7 linked regions of the Homo sapiens genome follow. The protein of the gene in region 3 purifies or fractionates together with the protein of the main gene of each other region. This does not show direct contact. Each region holds a gene or a part of one and is shown on either strand. Other genes may lie near its edges.

Region 1 (3,500 bases), on a different chromosome or scaffold from region 3:
GATCCGCCTGCTTCAGCCCCACAAAGTGCTGAGATTACAGGCGTGAGCCACCGCGCCCAGCCTTTTTCAACTTTTAATCGCTTCTGGTAGGTGCTGCCCTGGTCATCACAGAGTAAAAAACATTTTTAGACTACCTGTGTTTCTATTTAAGTAGACTGAGCATAGCAACAATCATTAAATTAGTAGCCGCTTGAAAGTGCAGACAAAATCTGCCATTTGAATGGGCTGGTATTTTTTTAAACAAACCGATCATAAAAATTTTGATCTCCCAGCAAAATTAGTTTGGACCCAAAGACGAGGTGCCTAAATTCAAGGATCATAAAAAATTACTCTTTTTAAGATTTCAAGCTTCATAGACAAGTTTATTATTAATTGTGTAATATGTACTTACTAGTATGTAATAAGTCTTCATGCCTGGCTTATTTCATCTAGCATGTTTTCAAGGTTCATTCATTTTGCAGCATGTGTCAGAACTTTATTCTTTCTATGGCTGAATAAATATTCCATTGTATGTATACACCACATTTTGTTTTTACATTCTTCTGTTGATGGACACTTCGGTTGTTTCCACCTTTTCACTATTACGAAGAATGCTGCAGTGAACATTGGCATACAAATACCTATTTGAGTTCCCGCTTTCAATTTCTTTGGATATATAACTGCAAGTAGAATTGCTCGATCATATGTTAATTCTGGGTTTAGCTTTTTGAGGAACCACCAAACCGTTTTCCATTGCAGCTGCACTGTTTTACATTCCCACCAGCAGTGTTACTAGAATTCTAATTTCTCCACATCCTAGCCAACGTTTATTTTCTGTTAAAAAAAATTACTGACAATCCTAGTAGATGTGAAGTGGTGTCTCATTGTGGTTTAAATTTACGTTTAGTTGGCCAGGCATGGTGGCTCATGCCTGTAATCCCAGCACTTTGGGAGGCCGAGGCGGGCAGATCACGAGGTCAGGAGATTGAGACCATCCTGGCTAACACAGTGAAACCCCGTCTCTACTAAAATTACAAAAAATTAGCCGGGTGTGGTAGCAGACGCCTGTAGTCCCAACTACTCAGGAGGCTGAGGCAGGAGAATGGCATGAACCCAGGAGGTGGAGTTTGCAGTGAGCCAAGTTTGTGCCACTGCACTCCAGCCTGGGCGACAGAGCAAGACTCTGTCTCAAAAAAAAAAAAAAAGGAAAAAAGAAAAAGAAATAAATTTACATTTAGTTTACTAAAGTTTTATCTGCCTAATATACTACCATCACCCAAACCCAGCAGAACTGATCATTTCTTCTTCGTCATCATAACTATATTTGTATAGTTGCTTGAGTATAATTTGACTGTTGGGTTCTTATAGAAAAGTATGGTGTCAAAAAACACATTTTATAGATACATTTGTTCCAGTGAAGACAAAGAAGCCAGAGACTTTCAGACTCTGGGCCAGTTACTTTTACTAAAGAAATTTTTAACAATATAGGTGATTTTTTTTTTTTTAGCTAAATGAATATATTCCATAATTGGAAACAACTGAGAAGTGAGGAAGCTGGGCAGAAGTCAGCAGAGAAAGGTTCCGGCCTGTGATGTAGTATGCTTTTAAGTGAGGGTATCGTGGGGGGTAGAGGAAAATTTCATAGAAATGCCATCTCAACTTCAGCAAGCAATTAGTTACTTCAAAAATTTTTTGCCTTGAAAATTTGTTACTTGCATTTTGAGACTATCATAGGACCCTGGAAGTAGAAGTTACCAACTTGATTTTCTTCCCTCAGCATTTCTGTTTGAAACTTTTTAAATCTACAAAAAATGTGCAAGAATAGTATAGTGAACACCCATGTACTCTAAACACAGATTCAGCAATTATTAACAACTTACCACAGTTGGATGGCAAAACAAATTCATTTGTGGAAGAGGAAGATACACATGTGATACTAACCTGTAAACAGCTCACAGACGTGTTTATGACTTATAAATCCCTTAGTTTTAGAATATTTATGTTATATAGACCCATGCTAGACTAGTTAGATGGTTAATTTTTATGGAATACTTGAATGACTATATCTTGTGAGTAAATATTTTTTAAAATTAAAAAAGAAATCACCTTTATTAGAAGTAGTTTTTAAGTAGTTTTAGAAATTCAGTTGTATAGTGGCTGGGCGCGGTGGCTCATGCCTGTAATCTCAGCACTTTGGGAGGCCTAGGCGGGTGGATCACGAGGTCAGGAGATCGAGACCATCCTGGCTAACACGGTGAAACCCCGTCTCTACTAAAAATAGAAGAAAATTAGCTGGGCGTGGTGACAGGTGCCTGTAGTCCCAGCTACTCGGGAGACTGAGGCAGGAGAATGGCGTGAACCCGGGAGGCGGAGCTTGCAGTGAGCCGAGATCACGCCACTGCACTCCAACCTGGGCGACAGAGCAAGACTCCGTCTCAAAAAAAAAAAGAAAAGAAAAAAGAAATTCAGTTGTATATTTATTTCTGTCTTTTAGAGGAAGCTAATGCACAGACATGTAAGCTCCATGAATAAAGATTTCTGTTTTGTTCATTTCTATAAAATCACCATTTCCTAGAATAATGCCTAGCTTATAGTAGGCCTATATATTAATGAATGGATAAATGCCAGGTTATTGGAGCCCAAATATAATTAATGGAAATTTCCTTATAACTTGTTTAAAATGGAAGATTTTGTATACCTAATCACTTTTTAGGTGCAGTCTCTTTAACGTAATTCAGGTGATTTTGTTATTGTCTATATAAAATATATTAGAAAGACATTAAAGGTATTATTTTTCAAATAAAGGTGCCCTATATTTTGTTCAATTATAGGAAGCAGTGTGGTTCCTTTCCAACATAACAGCAGGCAACCAGCAACAAGTTCAAGCTGTAATAGATGCTGGATTAATTCCTATGATAATTCATCAGCTTGCTAAGGTTGGTCATATTATGAGTTCACCGTGTCTGTTAATCTGTTAATAACCAAGACTTTTTGGATAAAGAGTCCATTTTATGATCTCATTTTTAACCTTCAGGGGGACTTTGGAACACAAAAAGAAGCTGCTTGGGCAATCAGCAACTTAACAATAAGTGGCAGAAAAGATCAGGTGAGTTTGAAAACCTGTAACTGTCATGATTGTTAATACTGGAAAGCATGCTGCTCTCTTATGTTTCGTAGTTGCTGACTGTATTGTGTTCTTTTTGGGGAAAAGATAATTATTATTATTTTAAGAGATGGAGTCTCACTATGTTGCCCAGGCTAGAGTGCAGTTGCTATTCACAGGCATGACCATAACGCACTACAGCCTCCAACTCCTGGGCTCAAGATAGCCTCCTGCCTCAGCCTTCCATGTAGCACGACACCCTACTGGGAAATAGATAATTATATAAATAAAAATATTTCTTCTCTTTTGTTGTCTAGGTTGAGTACCTTGTACAGCAGAATGTAATACCACCGTTCTGTAATTTACTGTCAGTGAAAGATTCTCAAGTGGTTCAGGTGGTTCTAGATGGTCTAAAAAA
Region 2 (3,500 bases), on a different chromosome or scaffold from region 3:
GGGAAGAGGTCATTTTCAGATGCTATCCTGTAGCTTAAACCTGGACTCCTTCCTGTGGGGCCTGGTCTGGGCCAGGGATGCTCTGAAGAGTTGTGTTGCCAGGGCCTCACTCTGTCTGCCTCTGCCCACTCCACAAGGGACATACCCAGTGGCCCACTGTGTGTAGTCATGGAGGGGAGAGTGGTCACAAGGTCCAGAGCTGTGGGTATAGCCTTTCTGAGTATACAGTTTGGAGTTCCTGAAGGGTTTAGGACATCACTTGAAGGTATTATGGCCCAGGAGCCCAGAAATGTCTGCATAGCCCGCTTTGGCCCAGCTATACCTCTTCTGCATATGATTCCAAGGGAGATATATATCCATATATATGTATACATATATATATGCATGTGTATATGCGTATATATGTATACGTGTATGTGTATATACATATGTTCATGTGTGCATATGTACGTATATGCATATATATGTATACATACATGTATACATATTTGTGCATACACACATACACATGCATACATATGCATGCATAGGTATATATGCATATGTATGTATATGTATGCTTATGTATATGCATATGTATGTATATGTATGCTTATGTATATATGCATATGTATGCATGTGTATGTATAGGTATGCATGTGTATGTATGTATATGCATGTGTATGTATAGGTATGCATGTGTATGTATGTATATGCATGTGTATAGGTATGCATGTGTATGTATGTATATGCATGTGTATGTATAGGTATGCATGTGTATGTATGTATATGCATGTGTATGTATAGGTATGCATGTGTATGTATGTATATGCATGTGTATGTATAGGTATGCATGTGTATGTATGTATATGCATGTGTATGTATAGGTATGCATGTGTATGTATGTATATGCATGTGTATGTATAGGTATGCATGTGTGTGTATGTATAGGTATGCATGTGTATGTATGTATATGCATGTGTATGTATAGGTATGCATGTGTATGTATGTATATGCATGTGTATGTATATGCATGCATATGTATGTATATGCATGCATGTGTATGTACGTATATGCGTACATATGTATGCATGTATATGTATGCATATGTATATGTATACGCATATGCATACATATATACATGTATGCATGTATACACACATGCATGTGTATATATGCATACCCACACATATGCATGTGTACACGCCCACACATGCATATATGCATGCCCACACACATGCATATCAACACATATATGCATATACGCATATCTACACATATACATACATGCATATCTACACGTGTATATATGTATATCTACACATGTGTTCACATACATATATACACATATGTATATGTGTATATATGTATGACAAGTAAAAAGGGAGGACTTTATTAGCAGATGGGGCTACCCTTAGTTTTCTTTCCAGCGTAGAGCTTTTTGCGAAGTTGGGCTTGATGGACACATGGCCTGACCCAAGGCCAAACCTCAGCCCAGGAGTACGTCTCAGGGTCACTGTAGCCCCTGGCTGCCCACACTGGGAAGGAGGGAATGAAAGCCTATTGGAGAGAAGAGGTTGGAGAGGGGCAAGTTGCTGGGTCCTCCTGTAGAGTGGGAGTGGGCTCTGGCTTAGTTTTTCTGCTGAGACACTTGGATGCAGGAGGAAGGAGAGAGTCCATGAGCCTGCATGTGACAGGTTCTGTGGTGATTTTGCCCAGAGGGCCTGCAGTTTTGCTTTTTGAAGGAGCTTTAGCAGATTAACCTAACAGGGAATGTGAACCCACAGTGGTTTATGCAGAGCTCTGCCTTTGCATTTCCAAGTCCTTGTTCTTTTAATGTTCCAGGAAGTTGGGCTGGGCTCTCCCAGGGCTGTGTCTTGTTCACTATAATGTCCTTCAGTGCCCTACACGGTACCTAGAATGTAGGAGGTATTCAGAGAAGATAAATGAAAGAATAACGTTTAGAGGAATAAACTCATTTTTTCCTCTAAAAGAGAACCAGAAGATCTTTTGGATTGATACTTGTCCCAGGTTCAGTTAATATGGTGGTTAAAAAGGAATGACTCTTTGGTGACTGCTTTGTAAGCCCAGCAGGGACAGAACTGGCCCAGTCCCTATGACGTGTCACCCCATTTCCTTTCCCACCCCATTCCCACAAAAGGTAACTGGCTCTTCCTATGTTGACTATACCTGCCTTTTTTCTGCCTAAAGTGACCGTCTGGTTCCTGAGCTTGACACAATTGTCCCTTTGGAATCAACCAAAGCCTACAACATGGTGGACATCATACACTCTGTAAGTGCCACATCTGTTTGTCTTGCCTGTCCTAGTCAGCCACATTCATGGGCATTGTGCTTCGGCTTAGTGAGGAAGCACTGGACCACTTGGCCTCCATGTCAGACAGCACAGGTCGGGAATAGGGTGGGCACAGGACCAGTGGCCACTGAGTAGTGTGTTCTGGAAAGACCTAGTGGCTATAGATACCCTAGTGGCACAGATGGACTTGAGGGCTGGAGATAGGAGTAGTAAGGGCCAGCAGAGCTCAGGAGTCTTTAGAAGGCCCTCTGAGGATCATAAATTAGGGGCCATGTCCACAGAGTCTAGAGTGAGGCCAGAGTGATCATTGTTAAGTATCATTGGGGCCCTCTGCTCAGAGGGGGTTTTGTCTTTATAGAGAAGAGAGTACACAGGGCATCCTAGAAGGTTGGACTGTGTGTGTGGAGGTCCGTGGGAGACAGGAGCCATTTGTACCTTTTTTTGGTACAGCAGATTCCTGGGTCATTAAGTAAAGGGGACAGTGTTGGGCAAACTGAAGGCATCTGTAGATGGCCAATGCCTTCCTTAAGGGTACACTGTGCTCTCGGTAGTCCTTGTGCAACACATCGTGATGGCTCTCTGGTAACTCTAGAAGTCAGATTCTCCCTCTTCCCTAGGGTTTGCTGTTTTCTGTTATTGTTTTTGTCTTTTTTATTCTTGTAGTCTCTTCCTGCACCAAGGATTAGCCTGAGATGTAACCTTAAGGTCTTCCTTAGGTCTTTTCTGAGCCTTTGCAGGGGCACGTGCAATCACTTTCTAATTTTCCCTGCATATGCAGTTGTTTTTGAGTGTCCTAGTTGTTAACGTCTGGCTCCCAAAAGTAGAAAAAGAGAAAAAAAATGAAGATGGTAAAAAGATGTCAGCCCTTTAAATTCCTTGGAAGTCAGTTCAGCCCAAAGCAGGAGAGCCTCGCAACAGTGTGGGGAGTTGTAGCAACAGTGACCACCCATCTCTTTGCACCTCTGTGATCAGAAGCAGCAGTCAGCAAGCACAGATTCTCAATATTTGGAGGACAGGGTCCTTTTATGCCCACCCCGGCTCCTGCAAGCTGTGTGCAAACTGCTGCAGGAACACTTGCGGAAATATCTGTCATGGAGCTGGGGTGGGGGATGGGTAGCTGCTACTATGCTAAGAGCTGAAATTAACTCCAATTTTCAGTCCAATCCTTCCCCTGGAAGTTGCAGTCTTTCAACAGACGCCAGAGTCA
Region 3 (3,500 bases):
AAGTTCCCTCCTAAGACCCAAGCACACTCACACAAGCCGGCTCTCAGAGAGGCCACAGATTTGGGACTTGGAGAGACCAGAGGATCCTCATAAGAGCATAGGTATAGGGCAGCTTTTGGCCATCACAGCCCAAGTCTCTTGTTTTAATTCAGCTCGTCATATTTGGCTAATAGTTTAAATCCTGTGGCCATTAGTCATCATAGAAAATATAATAAAGAAAAATATATAAAACTTCTGCTATTGGGGAAATTCCCATAAGGGTGTGAGGATTTGAGGGGGAGGGGGAATGTACTTCTGCTATGAAATGCTGAGCGGCACATGGAAATTTTCGAGCAGTTTTAGAAGTATGACCTTTTTCTTGGTGTATGTGCATCATGTCTATGTCAGAGTTTAGGCCCTTTTCAGAAGTCTTCTTCCAGTATCACATTTCAAGAAGCAATAGTGAAACCCTGAGATCATCCGTTTTAAAATATTTCTCAAGTAGCAAAATCACAATTTAGTTTTTTAGGCTCTTCTGTGCCGGAGTTAATCCCAAGTACGATATACTTGCTATTGCTAAGGAAGAGGCTTGAGTAAAGTGGCACCTGATAGCTTATTTTAGAGAAGATCCAGCCTGTACCTCGTGTCCCAGATGTAGTGCTGCTGCGAGATGCTTTAGTGTGCTCTGCACCTCAATCTGTCCATGCTCTGGAGTGGTCATCTTCTTAGACATTCATCTGAATGTCTTTAGAACAGTGCACATGTATCCCCTATGCAGGATTGCTTAAGGGATTAAGAGATGGCTTTGGAGTAAGACAGGCCTGGGCTTGAATCCCAGCTTCACCACGTATTGGCCTTGACTGAGTTATATGACGCCTGCAAGTCTCAGTTTCATTAGCTGAAAAGTGAAGATAATATTACCTAACTCATAGGATTATTGTTATAGTAAAAAGACAATATATATCAAATGCTTAGCATAGTCTGGTAAATCAAAGCTCCCAACAAATAGTAGCCACTGGTAAAATGATTGTTATTGTTATTGTTTTGAATTTTAATAGTATGTTTTTTAATAATTAAAAGAATTACGCTCCTGTGAGTGACTTTGACACCACCAGTATGTTCAGCCTCATTAGCGTAAGCTCTTAAGTTCCTTCTATCATTCTTATTTTTGTGCCTCTACTGCATGCTAGGGTTGTAAGGCTGACTCAGACAGAACCTGCCCCAGAGATGACAGGACAGAGAACGAGAAAAATGTGTAGAAAACTGCAGTTGCATAACCAAGCAGTAAATTTGAGAGGGACAACTTGCTCCACCTAGGAGGTTAGGAAAGTATTCTCTGAGGATGTCAGGTTTGAACTGGAATATAAAGGATGGAGTAGGCATTGTTCAGGCAGAAGAAAGGAGCAAAAACATTCCAGGCAGAGGGAATATTTGCTGGAATGTTTGCAGGAGTGGTGGGAAATACAATCACTTTGTTTCTTCACAAGTTTACTGCAAGAATTTTCTTCCAGTAGTTAAAAGCTTCACTCCATTCTCCACTCTTGGGATCTGGAAAGATCTTTAAAAAACCACCACACTGTATTTTGGAGGAGGGCAGCAGGGCTAAGTGAGGTAACTAAGTTTTTCTGAACAATTCCTAGTGCCAGGCATTCATTTTACATAGAATCTGTGTGTCAGGAAAAGTCAGGGGGAAAGGTAGAGAAGAAAACCGCCCAAAGCCATGGTATAGAGGCAGGATTGGGATTTAAGCTTAGGTCTTTCTGGGCTGGAAGCCTCAGTGTGTTTATACATCAAGGGGTCAAGACCTGAATGCTCCCAGAGGCCAGGAAGGTACCACAAATAACGTAGCAGCCTTGGGTAGGCAGTTGGGAGGGACCAGTCCTCTGGAGACAGCATCCCACCTCAGATTCAATGCATTTTATAGATTCAAAACATTTTAGGGCCAAATAAAACTAGGTATGAGAGCAGATTCCATTCTTGAGTCTAATCACATCTTGGGAATCTTTTCTTTTTCATTAACATTTTAGTTAATTATTGCCACTGTGTTTTCATTCCAGTGTCTTACACTTAGCAATCATCCACCTTCATTCTCAACTTGTGAGGGATCTACTAGAAGTCACATCTGGTTTGATTTCTGATGACATTATCAACATGAGAAATGATCTGTACCAGGTAAGCAGAAATCTCAAGAAAACAACTGAAGAAAAATCTGTAGTTTACTTTTTCTTCTGTTATGTTTGGGTGCATGTTATTTTTAGTAATGTTAACAGTAGCAAAAACAAAAACAAACCTTTGTAGGTAATATCTAAAATCCCATTAGTTGAGAATGTTACTTTATGATGTAGGATCCTTTGATCTGTGGGTATAACAGCCATCAAGCCACAATGAAATTCAGCATCCCGCTGGGGGAAGGCAAACTTTAAACTTTAGAAATCAAACAGTTTTTTCATTTAAGAGGGAGAAACTAAAGTAAAAATGTCACATCTGTCAAGAAAAATAAAGTTAAAAAAAGTTTGAAAAGCCAGTAATTTATAATAATTTTGAAGTCTACTGAAACATACCTTGACAACATCCAGATTAAATGTATATCAAATGAAGCATTCTGAAATCACCACACAGAAAGGTTAAAAGTTTGCTTGAGGAGGAAAAGGTGTCTTTCAAAAGCAGAAAGACAGCTCCAAGTGAGGAAAAGTGGGAACACCAGAGTTTTGCCCAAATCAGGTTTTCTTAGGAATTAATTAGGTGGGCTGAAAATACAAGTTGAGGAACTGTTTTTTCCAGAGGTCTTCCAACACTGCAAAGGGAGAGTTAGCTGGAGACACAGCGAGGCCCTTTGATGGGCATATGCAGAATTCAGGGAGAGGCAAGGAGCCTGGGAGCCACTTCGGCAGAAGCAGAGCTTGGACGTTGGTGATGGGAGCCCAGTGACCCCAGCCAGCCTTTCTGGCTGAGCGACTGCACTGGCATGAAACCAAGATGGGGTTCGGCTCCTGAGGTTTCCTCCTTCCTGCCCCTGATTGCTTTTCCCACCTCACTGTCTTTCCCCTACTCCCACCAGTCTGCTGTATGGGGCTCCTGCCCTTGCCCACTTCTTACCTTTCCATTTGTCTCCTTCCCTTCATCGACCCGAAGCATCTTCCTCATCCTCCTTGGAGAGATGGTTTGCTGGTTCACGTGTATCTCTCACTCCAAAACTATGGCCAAAATCCTGTGTAATTATTTACTTAGTAAAGATATTTGTTCCTGCTCTCTCAGTTTTTATAGCAGTGATGTGAATCATTTCTATTTCCTCACTTTAAAGGAAAATGCTTTTATTATTTTAAAGAAAATTAATTAAAACTTCATTTTCTTTAAAGGAAATTAAAATATCTATTTTCTTATTTTTATTTCCATTCTTTAAAATGTGCTTTAGGCTGGGTGCGGTGGCTCACACCTATAATCCCAGCACTTTGGGAGGCCGAGGCAGGCGGATCATGAGATCAGGAGATCGAGATCATCCTGGCTAACATGGTGAAACCCCG
Region 4 (3,500 bases), on a different chromosome or scaffold from region 3:
TCTACTAAAAATACAAAAATTTGCTGGGCGTGGTGGCGCGTGCCTGTAATCCCAGCTACTCGGGAGGCTGAGGCAGGAAAATTGCTTGAACGAGGAGGTGGAGGTTGCAGTGAGCCAAGATCATGCCATTGCACTCCAGCCTGGGTGACAAGAGTGAAACTCTGTCTCTCAATAAATAAATAAATAAAAGTGCCGAGACTGGGTGCTGTAGCTCACGCCTGTAATCCCAGCACTTTGGGAGGCCGAGGCGGGTGGATCACCTGAAGTCAGGAGTTTGAGACCAGCTTGGCCAACATGGTGAAACCCTGTCTCTACTAAAAATACAAAAATTAGCCAGGCATGGTGGTGCATGCCTATAGTCCCAGCTACTAGGGAGGATGGCTTGAACCTGGGAGGCAGAGGTTGCAGTGAGCCAATATCGTGCCACTGCACTCCAGCTTGGGTGACAGAGTGACTCCATCTCAAAAACAAACAAAAAGTGCCAAGTATGGCCGGGCATGATGGGTCACGCCTGTAATCCTAGCACTTTGAGAGGTGGAGTCAGGAGGATTGCTTGAATCAGGAGTTCAAGACCAGCCTGAGTCACATAGTGTGATCCTGTCTCTAAAAAAAAAATAAAAAAATTAGCCGGCAGTGGTGGTCCATGCCTGAGTCCCAGCTACTTGGGAGAACTGCTTGAACCAAGGAGGTTCAGGATGTGGTGAGATGTGACTGCACCATGCACTCCAGCCTGGGTGACAGAGTGAGACGCTCTCTCAAAAAATAAAAATAAAAACATTTTTTTTTTTTTTTGGAGACGGAGTCTCGCTCTGTCGCCCAGGCTGGAGTGCAGTGGCGCAATCTCGGCTCACTGCAAGCTCTGCCTCCCGGGTTCACGCCATTCTCCTGCCTCAGCCTCCCGAGTAGCTGGGACTACAGGCGCCCGCCACCATGCCCGGCTAATTTTTTTGCGTTTTTAGTAGAGATGGAGTTTCCCCGTGTTAGCCAGGATGGTCTCGATCTCCTGACCTCGTGATCCGCCCGCCTCGGCCTCCCAAAGTGCTGGAATTACAGGCATGAGCCACCGCGCCTGGCCAAAAAACAATAAAAAATTAAAAAAAAAAAAAAAGGATGAAGAGCCAAGCACCGCTTGTGAGCTGAGGACCCAGTAGAGACTAGCTGCACCCAGGAGCCTCCCTTGGGGTGCTCACAGTCAAGCACTGGGGTCAGCAAATCTTTCCTTATTTTATTTTATTTTTTTTTTTGAGACGGAGTCTCATTCTGTCCCCCAGGCTGGAGTGCAGTGGCGCAATCTTGGCTCACTGCAAGCTCCACCTCCCGGGTTCACACCATTCTCCTGTCAGCCTTCCGAGTAGCTGGGACTACAGGCGCCTGACACCACGGCCGTCTAATTTTTTATATTTTTAGTAGAGACGTGGTTTCACTGTGTTAGCCAGGATGGTGTCTATCTCCTGACCTCGTGATCCGCCTGCCTCGGCCTCCCAAAATGCTGGGATTACAGGCGTGAGCCACCACGCCTGGACCCTAGCAAATCTTTCTTAAAGGGTCAGATGGTAAATCCTTCCTCTGTTGAAACTACTCAACTCTCCTCTTGCAGTGCGAAGGCAGCCACAGACAGTATATAAATGGCAGTGTTCCAATACAAAGATTTTTTGGTTGGTTTTTTGTTGTTTTTTTTTTGAGATGGAGTCTCACTGTGTTGCCCAGGCTGGAGTGCAGTGGGGCGATCTCAGTTCACTGCAACCTCCACCTCCCTGGTTTAAGTGACTCTCATGCCTCAGCCTCCCGAGTATCTGAGACTACAGGTGCATGCCACCACGCCAGGCTAATTTTTGTATTTTTTAGTAGAGACGGGGTTTCACCATGTTGGCCAGGCTAGTCTCGAACTCCTGACCTCAGGTGATCTGCTTGCCTCTGCCTCCCGAAGTGCTGGGATTATAAGCGTGAGCCACCGTACCCAGCTCCAATAAAATTTTATTTGCAAAAACAGGTGGCTGGCCTCCAGGCTGAGGTTTGCTCAACCCTCATCTAATGTAAAGCATGGGAATCCCATCTTCCCCTCTCGCTGGCTGTGTGGCTGGGGCATGGGACCTAACCTCTCTGAGCTCCCTCCCCATTCATATCAATAGGTTCTGGGACTGTTGCCATTTTGATACTCAGAAGTGCTTTCAGGGTGATAGCAGCCAGGGCTCTTGTTTCATTTTATTTTGTTTTACTGAGACAGGTCTTGCTCTGTCATCCAGGCTAGAATGCAGTGGCACAATCTTGGCTCACTGCAACCTCCGCCTCCCAGGTTCAAGCAATTCTCCTGCCTCAGCCTCCTGAGAAGCTGGGATTACAGTCATCTGCCACCATGCCCAGCTAATTTTTGTATTTTTAGTAGAGACAGGGTTTCACCATGTTGGCCAGGCTGGTCTCGAACTCCTGACCTCCAGTGATCCGCCCGCCTCGGCCTCCCAAAGTGCTGGGATTATAGGCAGGAGCCACTGCGCCCGGCCCCAGCCAGGGCTCTTTTTTTGCAGGATCATATGGAATAAACTGAGAACATGTGGGTGCTGTGTAAACCATAAACATGAAGTAATTGTGATCATTAGCCCTTGTGGTTAGATCTTAGTACAATTATGTGCTTAATCAGGCCTCAGTGACTTTTGTTTAACTAGGATGCATCCTCAGAGCAGCTCCAGTTCATTGAGCATTTACCACATTCAGCCATCTTCCTAGGGAGGTGCCAATTTGGGATATCCTTTCCATGTGCCCCTTCATTCCCCCAACCCCTGCTCCCTACTCCCACCCACCCCTTTGACAAAGAAGGAAACCAGGGCTCAGAGGGGTCAGGCCACATGTGCAGCAAGCTGGCTAGTAACTGAGTCTTTGTTCTTTCCCTTCATGTAGGTGCCCACTCCCACATCCGGGGACTGGGGCTGGACGATGCCTTGGAGCCTCGGCAGGTAGAGCAGAGGAGGCTGGGGTGTGAGGGCCTCTCCATGAAGGTCTTGGGTAGTGGGTACCCAGGGTCCTGGGGAGTGTGGGGACTATGTTACGGTCTTCTGGACCTTTGGCTACATACCCATAAACTTCAACCACATGTGGGTTTTCTTGGTACTAAAGAATTGATTAGGCTAGGTGTGGTGGCTCATGCCTGTAATCTCAGCACTTTGGGAGGCCAAGGTGGGTGGATCACCTGAAGTCAGAGTCAAGACCAGCCTGACCAACATGGTGAAACCCTGTCTCTACTAAAAATACAAAAATTAGCCGGGCATGGTGGTGCATGCCTGTAATTCCAGCTACTCAAGAGCCTAAGGCAGGAGAATTGCTTGAACCTGGGAGGTGGAGGTTGCAATGAGCCGAGATTGTGCCACTGCCCTCCAGCCTGGGTGACATCTCGGAAAAAAAAAAAAAGAATTGGGAGTGGGTAGCAATTGCTTTGCCACCTTAAAAAAAAGTTAGACTGGGTGCAATGGCTCACACTTGTAATCCCAATACTTTGGGAGGCTGAGATG
Region 5 (3,058 bases), on a different chromosome or scaffold from region 3:
TATATTCTGTCACCTAGGCTGGAGTGCAGTGTCACGATCCCAATTTACTGCAACCTCTGCCTCCTGGGTTCAAGTGATTCTCCTGCCTCAGCTTCTTGGTAGCTGGGATCACAGGCGTGCACCACCACACCCGGCTAATTTTTGTAATTTTAGTAGAGACAGGGTTTTACCATGTTGGCCAGGTTGTTCTTGAACTCCTGGCCTCAAGTGATCACCTGCCTTGGCCTCCCAAAGTGCCGGGATTACAGGCATGAGCCACTGCGTCTGGCCATTTATGATAATTTTTTTAAGGTAGCTCTTAAAGTTTGTGCCTTAGGGTGTGGTGGCTCACACCTGTAATCCCAGCACTTTGGGAGGCCAAGGCGGGAGGATCACATGAGACCAGGAGTTCAAGACCAGCCTGTCTAACATGGTAAAACCCTGTCTCTACTAAAGATACCAACCAAAAAAAATTAGCCTGGGCGTGGTGGCTCGTGCCTATAATCCCATCACTTTGGAAGGCCAAGGCGGGAGGGTCACTTGAGGTCAGGAGTTGGAGACCAGCCTGGCCAACAGGTTGAAACCCCCTTTCTACTAAAAATACAAAACGTAGCCGTGCGTGGTGGCACGTGCATGTAATCCCACCTACTGGGGAGGCTGGGGTGAGAGAACTGCTTGAACCCAGGAGGCAGAGGTTGCAGTGAGCCAAGATCGCGCCACTGCACTCCAACCTGGGTGACAGAGTGAGACTCCGTCTCACAAAAAGATAATAAATAATAAAGTTTCTGCCTTAATATATATCCCACAGCCTAACAGGTATGTGAAGAAGCCCAAGAGGAACTCAACGATTCTTGGTAACCCCTAGATTATGTACTTAATATTGGAGTTGGGACTTTCAGCTTAGGATGCTTCCTTTTCTGTTTGCATATACTAAGTTTTCCACTTAACGTGGGTCAGGTTCAAAAGTTTAGCTATTCAGATGTTCATAGAAATAGCTAGATACCTAGATTGGTCCAATAATTGGAAAATAGTTTTATGTTGAAACAAAATGGAAGCCTTTTTTTTTTTTTTCAGATTTGCAGCCAAGATTGTCAATAAGTTTCTATGGAGAAATAATTATTTCTAGCTGACATTGTAGGTTTAAGGAGTTCCTGTCCCCATTAACCCATCTTAACCAAGTGGTTGCTGAGAGTGACAACAGGAGAGCAATGCCAGTTTTCTTGGCTTTAAGGGACAGAGTTCTCACATTGCCCTGTGTTCACAGTGTGGTTTGATTTACATAGGTCTGGAGGGTGAGCGACCTGCGAGACTCACAAGAGGGGAAGCTGACAGAGATACCTACAGACGGAGTGCTGTGCCACGTGAGTAAATGCATCACCTATATTAGGGGTGTTGGGGTGAAATGTCTGGATTCTCACAGCTGGCTCTGGCTGGGTGGGGCTCAGCCCTTGATGATGACAAAATGACCAGGAAAGATTCTTGGTTTCACTCTGCAGAGCATCAGAACAGCTGGAGTCCTTTGTGCTTCTTTCTTCATGCAGTGATTTCATAGATGAGAATTAGGAGGAGGCTGGGATTTTTTAAAAAACAAAACTCAGGCCGGGCTCAGTGGCTCATGTCTGTAATCCCAGCACTTTGGTTGGAGGGGGGGGGTCGAAGTGGGCAGATTACTTGAGGTCAGGAGTTCGAGACCAGCCTGGCCAACATGACGAAACCCTGTCTCTATTAAAAATACAAAAATTAGGGCGGTGTGGTGGTGGGCGTCTGTAGTCCCAGCTACTTAGGAGGCTGAGGCATGAGAATTGCTTGAACCTGGGAGGCAGAGGCCGCAGTGAGCCGAGATCATGCCATTGTATTAGATCTATGGCTCACACTGGGCACGAGGATAGGGGGAGGAAAGCAAATGCCAATAACAAATATGGTTTCAGTAATTGTTAAAGTTGTCACTCCAGCCTGGGTGACAGAGCAAGACTGTCTCAAAAAAAAAAAAAAACCTCTTCGGTAAAATGTGGAGCTTTTGTTAGTATTTTTGCAAAGGAATAATAGGATTCAACTTTTTTTTTTTTTTAATTTTCTTTCATTTTTGAGACAGTCTCGCTCTGTCACCCAGGCTGGAGTGCAGTGGCAAGATCTTAGCTCACTGCAAGCTCTGCCTCCTGGGTTCACGCCACTCTCCTGCCTCAGCCTCCCGAGTAGCTGGGACTACAGGCGACCGCCGCCATGCCCAGCTAATTTTTTTTGTATTTTTAGTAGAGATGGGGTTTCACCGTGTTAGCCAGGATGGTCTGGATATCCTGACCTCATGATCCGCCCGCCTCAGCCTGCCAAAGTGCTGGGATTACAGATGTGAGCCACCGCGCCCACCCGGATAAAGTCACTCGTTGTTGATTGTAATACAAAAGCAAGGTGTACAAGAAGAGTTTTTACTAACTTCTACCACTCTTAGCTTTTTTCTGTCATCTTTTGGAGAAGTGACCACTTGACCTGAGTACCATACAGGGTAGTAGAAGGAATGAATTTCTCCAGCCCTTGGTTCAGAGGAAGTTGGTGATACTGGAAGTTTAACGATTATGGGCCAGGCACAGTGGCTCATGCCTGTAATCCCAGCACTTTGGGAGGCCGAGGCAGGTGGATCACTTGAGGTCAGGAGTTCAAGACCAGCCTGGCCAGCATGGTAAAACCCCATCTCTACTTTAAAAAATTAGCTGGGCATGATGGTGTGTGCCTGCCTGTAATAATCTCAGCTACTCGGGAGGCTGAGGCGGGAGAATTGCTTGAACCTGGGAGGCGGAGGTTGCAGTGAGACAAGATCATGCCACTGCACTCCACCCTGGGCAACAGCAAGACCCTGTCTCAAAAGAAAAGAAAACGATTACTGAAACCATATTCGTTATTGGCATTTGCTTTCCTCCCCCTATTCTTGTACCCAATGTGAGCCATAGATCTAATACAAAATTTCCTCGTAGCCACACTTGAAAAAGCAAGTGGAAACAGGTTATTTGAGTACTAATGTCTTTTATTTAATCAAATATTTGTAAAAGTGAGTTGGGAATGGTGGTATGTGCCTATAGTCCCAGCT
Region 6 (3,500 bases), on a different chromosome or scaffold from region 3:
GTCCAGGGACTCGTTCTTGAGTCACCCCAGACCCTTGATCTGGCAAAAATGAGACTGACCCAGCAAGGAGGGAAAGACAGGACGACTAGGTGGTAGATAAACCTGGAAGTGAAGTGAAGAAAAAAGTGTAAGATGTGATCAACCTTGTCAGATTCTGCTGAGGATGCAAGTACGGGGAAGGTGGAATTGACCCTTGGGTTTGGCAGCAGTAGGTGTCAGCCATGAGCCTGACAATGTGGTGGAGACAAAAAAGCCAGGTGGGGATGGGCTCAGGGGAGGGGAGAGGAGCAGTAGAGGTGGCAAGTGTGGACGGTTCTTCTGGAGCTTTGCTGTTGGAGAGGAGGGGGTCATTGTTAGCAACGATAATAGAATAAAGAGGACTTTTATTTTATTTTATTGTTTTGAGACGAAGTCTCGCTCTTTTCCCATAGGCTGGAGTGCAATGGTGTGATCTCAGCTCACTGCAACCTCTGCTTCCTGGGTTTAAGTGATTCTCCTGCCTCAGCCTCCCGAGTAGCTGGGATTACAGGTGACTGCCACCACGCTCAGCTAAGTTTTGTATTTTTAGTAGAGACGGGGTTTCACCATGTTGGCCAGGCTGGTCTCGAACTCTTGACCTCAGGTGATCCGCCCACCTCGGCCTCCCAAAATGCTGGGATTACAGGTGTAAGCCACCATGCCCGGCCTAAAGAGGACTTTTTTAAGGTAGCAGGTATGCCAGTAGGCTGCACAGGGATGGAAGTGATCCATTAGAGGAGAGATGATGGAGCAGCAAGACCATCAGGAGTGAAGACTCCGTGACAGAGGATGGGACGCAGTGCCCAAGGGGAGGTTGGCCTTGCAGGGAAAGCACATGCCTGTCCCTCCCTCATTAGCTTCATTTGGACAAAACATGTAAAATCCGGTGTGTTGTGGAGGCCTTTTGATTGGGGAACTGTAACGCTGCCTATCGAGCAACAGCACTTTAAGCAGGTGGCTTTGTTCAAATTAAAGGTTCTTCTTTTTCTTTTCAGGCATCATGGACCGATCTAAAGAAAACTGCATTTCAGGACCTGTTAAGGTAAATTGAATAATCTGTAATCTCATTCACATTTATAAACCCACATGGAGGTTGGTCTTGTCGGGAATTCTTTCCGCCTTTACTTTGGATTTAAATTTAGATCCCTTACTGTGATCCTGGATATGAATTAGTCACTTTTCTCGTGTTCAGTAACATTTTGCTGCTTCTTAGAGTAGCTTTTTTGTTCTGCTTTGTCTTATAATCGGCTGCTTAAGTTTCTATATCCCTCCACTGTATGCAGGATAATAGTAATAATGCATCTGGCAGGAGTTCAAAACTTTTAAAATTGGCCATAAATATAAAATAATTAGAAAAAGGCTACCTTGAATTACTGTATTTGATTCTAAGTTCCTATGATAACGGCCATTTAAAAAATTGCTCTATATTTAAAATGTTTCTTTTTATTTGTCTTTGTCTGAATGCCTGCTGCGTTGTGGACAGTGTGCTAATTTCAGGAGTAACTGACTTTGTATTTGGAAGTCTTAACACCCTCTCTTTGTAGAGCACTCATACCGTTGAGCTGGGGATGGACTTTGAGGCTTTCATTTCTAGCACTTGTCCCTCACTTACAATGAGCTGTTGAAGCTGAAGGAAATCTCATCCCTCCTACCCCTTTTAGTTTGATTAGCTGAGGGTGTTAGAGTTAACTTAACAATTTAAGGTTGTAATACAGTACTTACAGGCGTATAAATAATACATTTCAAGGCTGGGCGCGGTGGCTCACGCCTGTAATCCCAGCACTTTGGGAGACCAAGGAGAGTGGATCACAAGGTCAGGAGTTCAAGACCGGCCTGGCCAAGATGGTGAAACCCTGTTTCTACTAAAAATACAAAAAATTAGCCAGGCGTGGTGGCAGGCGCCTGTCGTCCCAGCTGCTTGGGAGGCTGAGGCAGAGAATTGCTTGAACCTGGGAGGCAGAGGTTGCAGTGAGCCGAGATCATGCCACTGCACTCCAGTCTGGGTGACAGAGCAAGACTCCATCTCAAAAATAATAATAATAATACATTTTAGTAGTAACTTTGTGAAGTGTCTACATTTGTTTCCTCTTTGTCAGTTTTTTGCTCAATTCCATTTTGTCAATACTTGGAAAATGAAACATTGGTTAATCAATAGTACAGTAATAAGCTTATTGTGGAAAATCTTCGATATATGAAAACTTAGACTCTTCTAAAACTTCATGAAGATAATACCACTGTTGAACGTTTTGACGTATTTTTTTTTGGTCTTTTTCTTAAACGTATATTATCAAAGAAATTTCAATGGAACTGAGATTTTGGCATAAAGTTTTTGTATCATAGCTTTTTGCCAAATAGCAATGTAGTGTCTATTTCCAAATTATTGAGAAATTTTAGAAAGTGTCTCCTTCATTAATGGATATTTGTTAATAAAGCATGATTTTTAGGGGTGAGGAATTGGAGGGGATAGAAGGTATCATTCAGGTATTCTTAGCCACATACTAACTATCCTCTGGAGGTACTGATTAAAATACCTTTTCACCTTCCATCTCTTATCAGTGACATTCATTATTTTGCTATACTAGAGAACAAACTTTGTGAAATTCTCAATATATTCATCTTTTGCTTTCATGAATGCCAGAAAGTTTATTTTCTCTTCCATTCTAGGCTACAGCTCCAGTTGGAGGTCCAAAACGTGTTCTCGTGACTCAGCAATTTCCTTGTCAGAATCCATTACCTGTAAATAGTGGCCAGGCTCAGCGGGTCTTGTGTCCTTCAAATTCTTCCCAGCGCATTCCTTTGCAAGCACAAAAGCTTGTCTCCAGTCACAAGCCGGTTCAGAATCAGAAGCAGAAGCAATTGCAGGCAACCAGTGTACCTCATCCTGTCTCCAGGCCACTGAATAACACCCAAAAGAGCAAGCAGCCCCTGCCATCGGCACCTGGTAAACTAGCTTTTGAGACTCATTGGATAGTCCTTCTTTGTCGTCGTTGCTAAAAAAGCCAGTGTATATACTTGCACTTATTGTTTGGAGCCTTAGCTTTTATATCTGTTGAGGATGGGGAGAAAATATGGTGTCTGGGTTGAAGTAACAGTGTCTGCCCATGGGCCAGACCTATGCTAAAAATACAGACCTGATTCTCACCCTCTTGGAAGAGTTGGGCACCCAGGGAGGACACAGCATAAATTGGTGTCCTTTTGATTGCTTGTTACTGAGTCTGGATGTAGGGTGCTTGCAGTAAGTGACTTGAAGGGACTGAGATCTAAAGTGTGGGGGAAATCCAGAGAAGTGGGTGAACTGAGGCAGGCTGCGGTGAGGTCACCATGGGCATTGCTGGCCATGTTAAGGAATGGGGCCTCATCTCTAGGGCATTTGGAAGCTACTGAAGCTTTTTTGAACTCAGAAGGGAACTCTGCCTTTTAGAAAGTTTACTGTGGAAGGCCAGGCGCAGTGGCTCACGCCTGTAATCCCAGCGCTTTGGGAG
Region 7 (3,500 bases), on a different chromosome or scaffold from region 3:
AAAAGTTTGTTCTCTGTGTAGGAATTCTTTAATATCTCAGGACATTAGCATGTTTCAGCAACATACTGGGTTTGGAGGTAAAGTACTAAATGTTTGACATTTATTTCATTTGATAATTGAAGTTTTCCTCAACGATTAATATAGCAATACATCTCCATTTATACTTTTAAGGAATTAGTAATTTTTAAATTACTTTTAAATTTGAGAACACTGTCATCAGTCATTAATACAAATTTAATTTTTTTAGTGGAATCAACTATGAAATTATAATCATAGATGATGGAAGCCCAGATGGAACAAGGGATGTTGCTGAACAGTTGGAGAAGATCTATGGGTCAGACAGAATTGTAAGTTATAAGAACATTTTTCTGTGATATGAATTGTGATTATGTAGGGGAAAGATGAGACATGAACAATGCTTAAATTCAATCTATTTGTTTAGAAACTGAAAAGATAAAGAGCAACTTACGCATTTGGGATTTAAATGCATTTTTGTTGTCCGTAAAATTTTACATATCTTTGGTATGTTGGGTCAGTGGTCATTTTACAGCAAAGAGTGAGCTTTTGGATGAACTCTGTTTATAACTAATTCTGCAGATAAATTTTCTTGAAGGGCAAAAATTAAAGCATGATACTGAATTGACAAGGAATATTATATAATTGGGTTATAATTGGTAGTGTGTGTGTGTCTTAATCTTTCTTGCTCCCTTTCGGTAAGTATTCTCATGCTTTCATTAGAGAATACTGCCTGAAATTAAGAGCGTGTAGGTAGAAAAAGTTACTGTTTTCTTGTGAAACATTAATGACTTCTTAGAGTACTTGGCATTTTTAGTCTATAGAATAGTCTTGTGAAAGTAGATTGACTGTATTAGTCCTAAACTTTAGATTCACCCACTGTACCTTGAAACTTGTTATTCTAATATAGAAGTTACTTAGGCAAATATAGAGTTTATTTTATAATGGCTTCATGAATTTTATTTTTGGTTACCGGTTTGTATTTACAAATGTTTATGTATACTCGAGCTCTTTTATAATTTATATTCACAAATTATTGCAGACCACAGTTTTTCAGTCTTGGCACTATTGACGTGTGGACAGATTAATTCTTTACTGTGGGGGTTGTCGTGTTTATTGTAGGATGTTCAGCACCGCATCTGGACTCTTCTCACTAGATGCCACTAGAAACCCCCCTCCCCACTTGGCAACTGCAAATGTTTGGATATTGTGAGATATTTCCTTAGGGGAAAAATTACCCTTTGCCTCCAGTAGAGAACCATTGGTATAGAGAAAGAAGTCCCTTTGAGAACCTTTATTGTTATTTACAGTTCAAGAAATGGTAAATTAATCATTTTAAAAAAAAGCCACTCAGTCTAAATATTCTTGATAAATCTCAGTAATAGAAATACTTTCTACTTAGAGGTGAGTGTCAGTTGTATGAGGTCTTGGTGGCAAGAGTTTAAAGGAACTGTGTTACTACATGGTAAATGTAGTTCTAGGAATTCTTTCAGTCTGTCTCACAGATGAGTAACTCAGGTCTGTCACACCTCAAGTCTTCTCTGAAAACCTTCTAATGGATGGGAATACAGAAAGAGGTAAAAAGTTGACAAATTTTCAGGCTTCTAGCAGAGACTTTCAGTAATGCTAGGTTTGAATTTTTGGCCAGTAGTTCCCTGTTTTCTTTAGAAGCCCAGGGTGAAGGCCACTGATTCACAACACTTTTGAGTTATGTGCTGCCATTTAATCTCGGACCATCAACCAGACAACATTTTGAATACTTTTGTCATAAAACCTCAGCCTTAGGATGTGATTGATTGATTTTAGGGAATGGTTACTAAACTGACCTTTCAAATTTTGGAACAACATTGTCTTCAAAGACATTTTTTCTATCAACCCAATAAAATTCAAAATGAGAAAAAAAGTTGCATTCACTGTTACGATTTCCCTCTACTACCAGATAAAATTCCTTATTCATTCATTATTTTATGACATTTAAATAAGTTAAACTAGAAAATGACTTTTAAAAAAAAACAGTATTAATCCATGCTAGGGATGACACTTGCTTTTAGTGACAGATGTATGTTTCGTTGAGAAAATGAAGGATATTGAAACCATGTTAGAATACCTCAGATAAAGTGTTCACCACAGATGCTTTGTCAGCCTTTCAGACTGGCTGAAATGAATCTTTCAGAAAAGAAGCCAAAGAAGATATTTTTAAAAATTCTGTAGGTGACACAACTGAAGCGAGAGGTTAGGTCATTTTTAATGACCTAACTAGGTAGGACCATAGAGAAATTGGGGGCACTTACTCTGAACTATTCACAGTGCTTACAAGGCAGAGATCTGAAATTGTGAAGGACTTCAACTGCTCTGTGTTGAATGCTTTTATTATGTTTGGTTTATGTAGTTTGTTTCATCTCCCAACTTGAGATCAGATAAAGTCATTTATATTTTGTCATATTTTCTTCCAGCTTTATTGAGGTATAATTGACAAAGTTATATATATTTAAAGTATGAATACCACATTTGGGGAATGAACCTGTCCATCACCTCACGTAGTTACCCTTGGGGGCAAGTTGACAGTGATGAGGACAGTTAAGATCTGCTCTCTGTAAATTTCAACTATATAATATGATACTATTAACTATAGTCACCGTGCTGTGTGGTAGATTCTTAGAACTTTGTCTTACATTTTGTCATTATTTTATAGTTTAGTATTTTAAAAACTTACTCTGATAATAAAATGTAACACGTTTATTATTCTTAAAACATCAAATGTAAGATAAAAAGGTTTGACTACTTGAAAATATTAAACTTCTGTCCATTCCTAAATACCAAAATATTTCTAACAAGATCAGTACCCCAACCAACCAGATAATTCATAAGACCAAAACTAGAAATGGCCAGTAAACAAGAAAAAAATACTGAGCCTCACTGATAAGTGAAGATTTACAAAACAGGAGGAGAGTACATATTAGCCTTATTAGCTGAAGATTTATTTTTATTTTCTCCTTTCTTTTTAACCCAGTGTTTCTGAGAGTATTATAGAACAAGTCCACTCAAATACTGTTGATCCTAGTATAAATTGATACTGTTTTTCTGAAGTATCATCTGGCAGTAATCTCATGACCCTCAAAAATCCTTAATGCCTTTGTAATAAGTATAAAGCAGTTTATAAAACTGTATATGTACTATAGTCTCAATTCTGTTTTTAAGTAACTTTTTTCAAGATTGTCTGTGATAAGTTTTACAAAGGTTCTTGTCAAACAAATTATAGTTTCCCATAAAAGTATTTTATAAGCAGCTGTGGCAAACATGCTTCAAAAAGTATATGCCTGTCATTCTTGCAAGCACTTTATGTGAATCCACTTGCTTGTTCCTCATGAAAGCCAAGTGAGAGGGGGCTTTGTCACGCCTCTTTATATTCTCAAGATCACATGGCAAATGAGTAGTGGCCAGGATTCAAACCCAGGCATTGTGGTTCCAGGGTTCATCTTCCTGTC

What was found.
Region 1: the proteins of NFKB1 (region 3) and KPNA3 purify together in Homo sapiens (affinity purification with mass spectrometry; 2 studies listed by BioGRID, with this or other methods). This does not show direct contact.
Region 2: the proteins of NFKB1 (region 3) and PCCB purify together in Homo sapiens (tandem affinity purification; one large-scale study listed by IntAct). This does not show direct contact.
Region 4: the proteins of NFKB1 (region 3) and RUVBL2 purify together in Homo sapiens (affinity purification with western blotting; 2 studies listed by BioGRID and IntAct, with this or other methods). This does not show direct contact.
Region 5: the proteins of NFKB1 (region 3) and RPS10 purify together in Homo sapiens (affinity purification with mass spectrometry; 2 studies listed by BioGRID and IntAct, with this or other methods). This does not show direct contact.
Region 6: the proteins of NFKB1 (region 3) and AURKA purify together in Homo sapiens (affinity purification with mass spectrometry; 6 studies listed by BioGRID and IntAct, with this or other methods). This does not show direct contact.
Region 7: the proteins of NFKB1 (region 3) and DPM1 purify together in Homo sapiens (affinity purification with mass spectrometry; 2 studies listed by BioGRID and IntAct, with this or other methods). This does not show direct contact.

What each region holds. Positions count from the first base shown.
Region 1 is NC_000013.11:49,705,683-49,709,182, reverse strand, and holds part of KPNA3 (importin subunit alpha-4), read left to right. Parts: intron 1-2,810; coding exon 2,811-2,915; intron 2,916-3,013; coding exon 3,014-3,085; intron 3,086-3,399; coding exon 3,400-3,500. UniProt on the Homo sapiens protein: Functions in nuclear protein import as an adapter protein for nuclear receptor KPNB1. Binds specifically and directly to substrates containing either a simple or bipartite NLS motif.
Region 2 is NC_000003.12:136,298,840-136,302,339, forward strand, and holds part of PCCB (propionyl-CoA carboxylase beta chain, mitochondrial isoform 1 precursor), read left to right. Parts: intron 1-2,190; coding exon 2,191-2,272; intron 2,273-3,500. UniProt on the Homo sapiens protein: This is one of the 2 subunits of the biotin-dependent propionyl-CoA carboxylase (PCC), a mitochondrial enzyme involved in the catabolism of odd chain fatty acids, branched-chain amino acids isoleucine, threonine, methionine, and valine and other metabolites.
Region 3 is NC_000004.12:102,598,859-102,602,358, forward strand, and holds part of NFKB1 (nuclear factor NF-kappa-B p105 subunit), read left to right. Parts: exon of another isoform or gene 1-877; intron 878-2,036; coding exon 2,037-2,151; intron 2,152-2,786; exon of another isoform or gene 2,787-3,173; intron 3,174-3,500.
Region 4 is NC_000019.10:49,000,387-49,003,886, forward strand, and holds part of RUVBL2 (ruvB-like 2), read left to right. Parts: intron 1-2,892; coding exon 2,893-2,948; intron 2,949-3,500. UniProt on the Homo sapiens protein: Possesses single-stranded DNA-stimulated ATPase and ATP-dependent DNA helicase (5' to 3') activity; hexamerization is thought to be critical for ATP hydrolysis and adjacent subunits in the ring-like structure contribute to the ATPase activity.
Region 5 is NC_000006.12:34,420,012-34,423,069, reverse strand, and holds part of RPS10 (small ribosomal subunit protein eS10), read left to right. Parts: intron 1-1,262; coding exon 1,263-1,340; intron 1,341-3,058. Other genes in the region: RPS10-NUDT3 protein, read left to right, coding at 1,263-1,340. UniProt on the Homo sapiens protein: Component of the 40S ribosomal subunit. The ribosome is a large ribonucleoprotein complex responsible for the synthesis of proteins in the cell.
Region 6 is NC_000020.11:56,385,716-56,389,215, reverse strand, and holds part of AURKA (aurora kinase A), read left to right. Parts: intron 1-431; exon of another isoform or gene 432-807; coding exon of another isoform or gene 808-904; intron 905-1,013; coding exon of another isoform or gene 1,014-1,018; coding exon 1,019-1,060; intron 1,061-2,682; coding exon 2,683-2,959; intron 2,960-3,500. UniProt on the Homo sapiens protein: Mitotic serine/threonine kinase that contributes to the regulation of cell cycle progression.
Region 7 is NC_000020.11:50,952,033-50,955,532, reverse strand, and holds part of DPM1 (dolichol-phosphate mannosyltransferase subunit 1), read left to right. Parts: intron 1-247; coding exon 248-347; intron 348-3,500. UniProt on the Homo sapiens protein: Transfers mannose from GDP-mannose to dolichol monophosphate to form dolichol phosphate mannose (Dol-P-Man) which is the mannosyl donor in pathways leading to N-glycosylation, glycosyl phosphatidylinositol membrane anchoring, and O-mannosylation of proteins; catalytic subunit of the dolichol-phosphate mannose (DPM) synthase complex.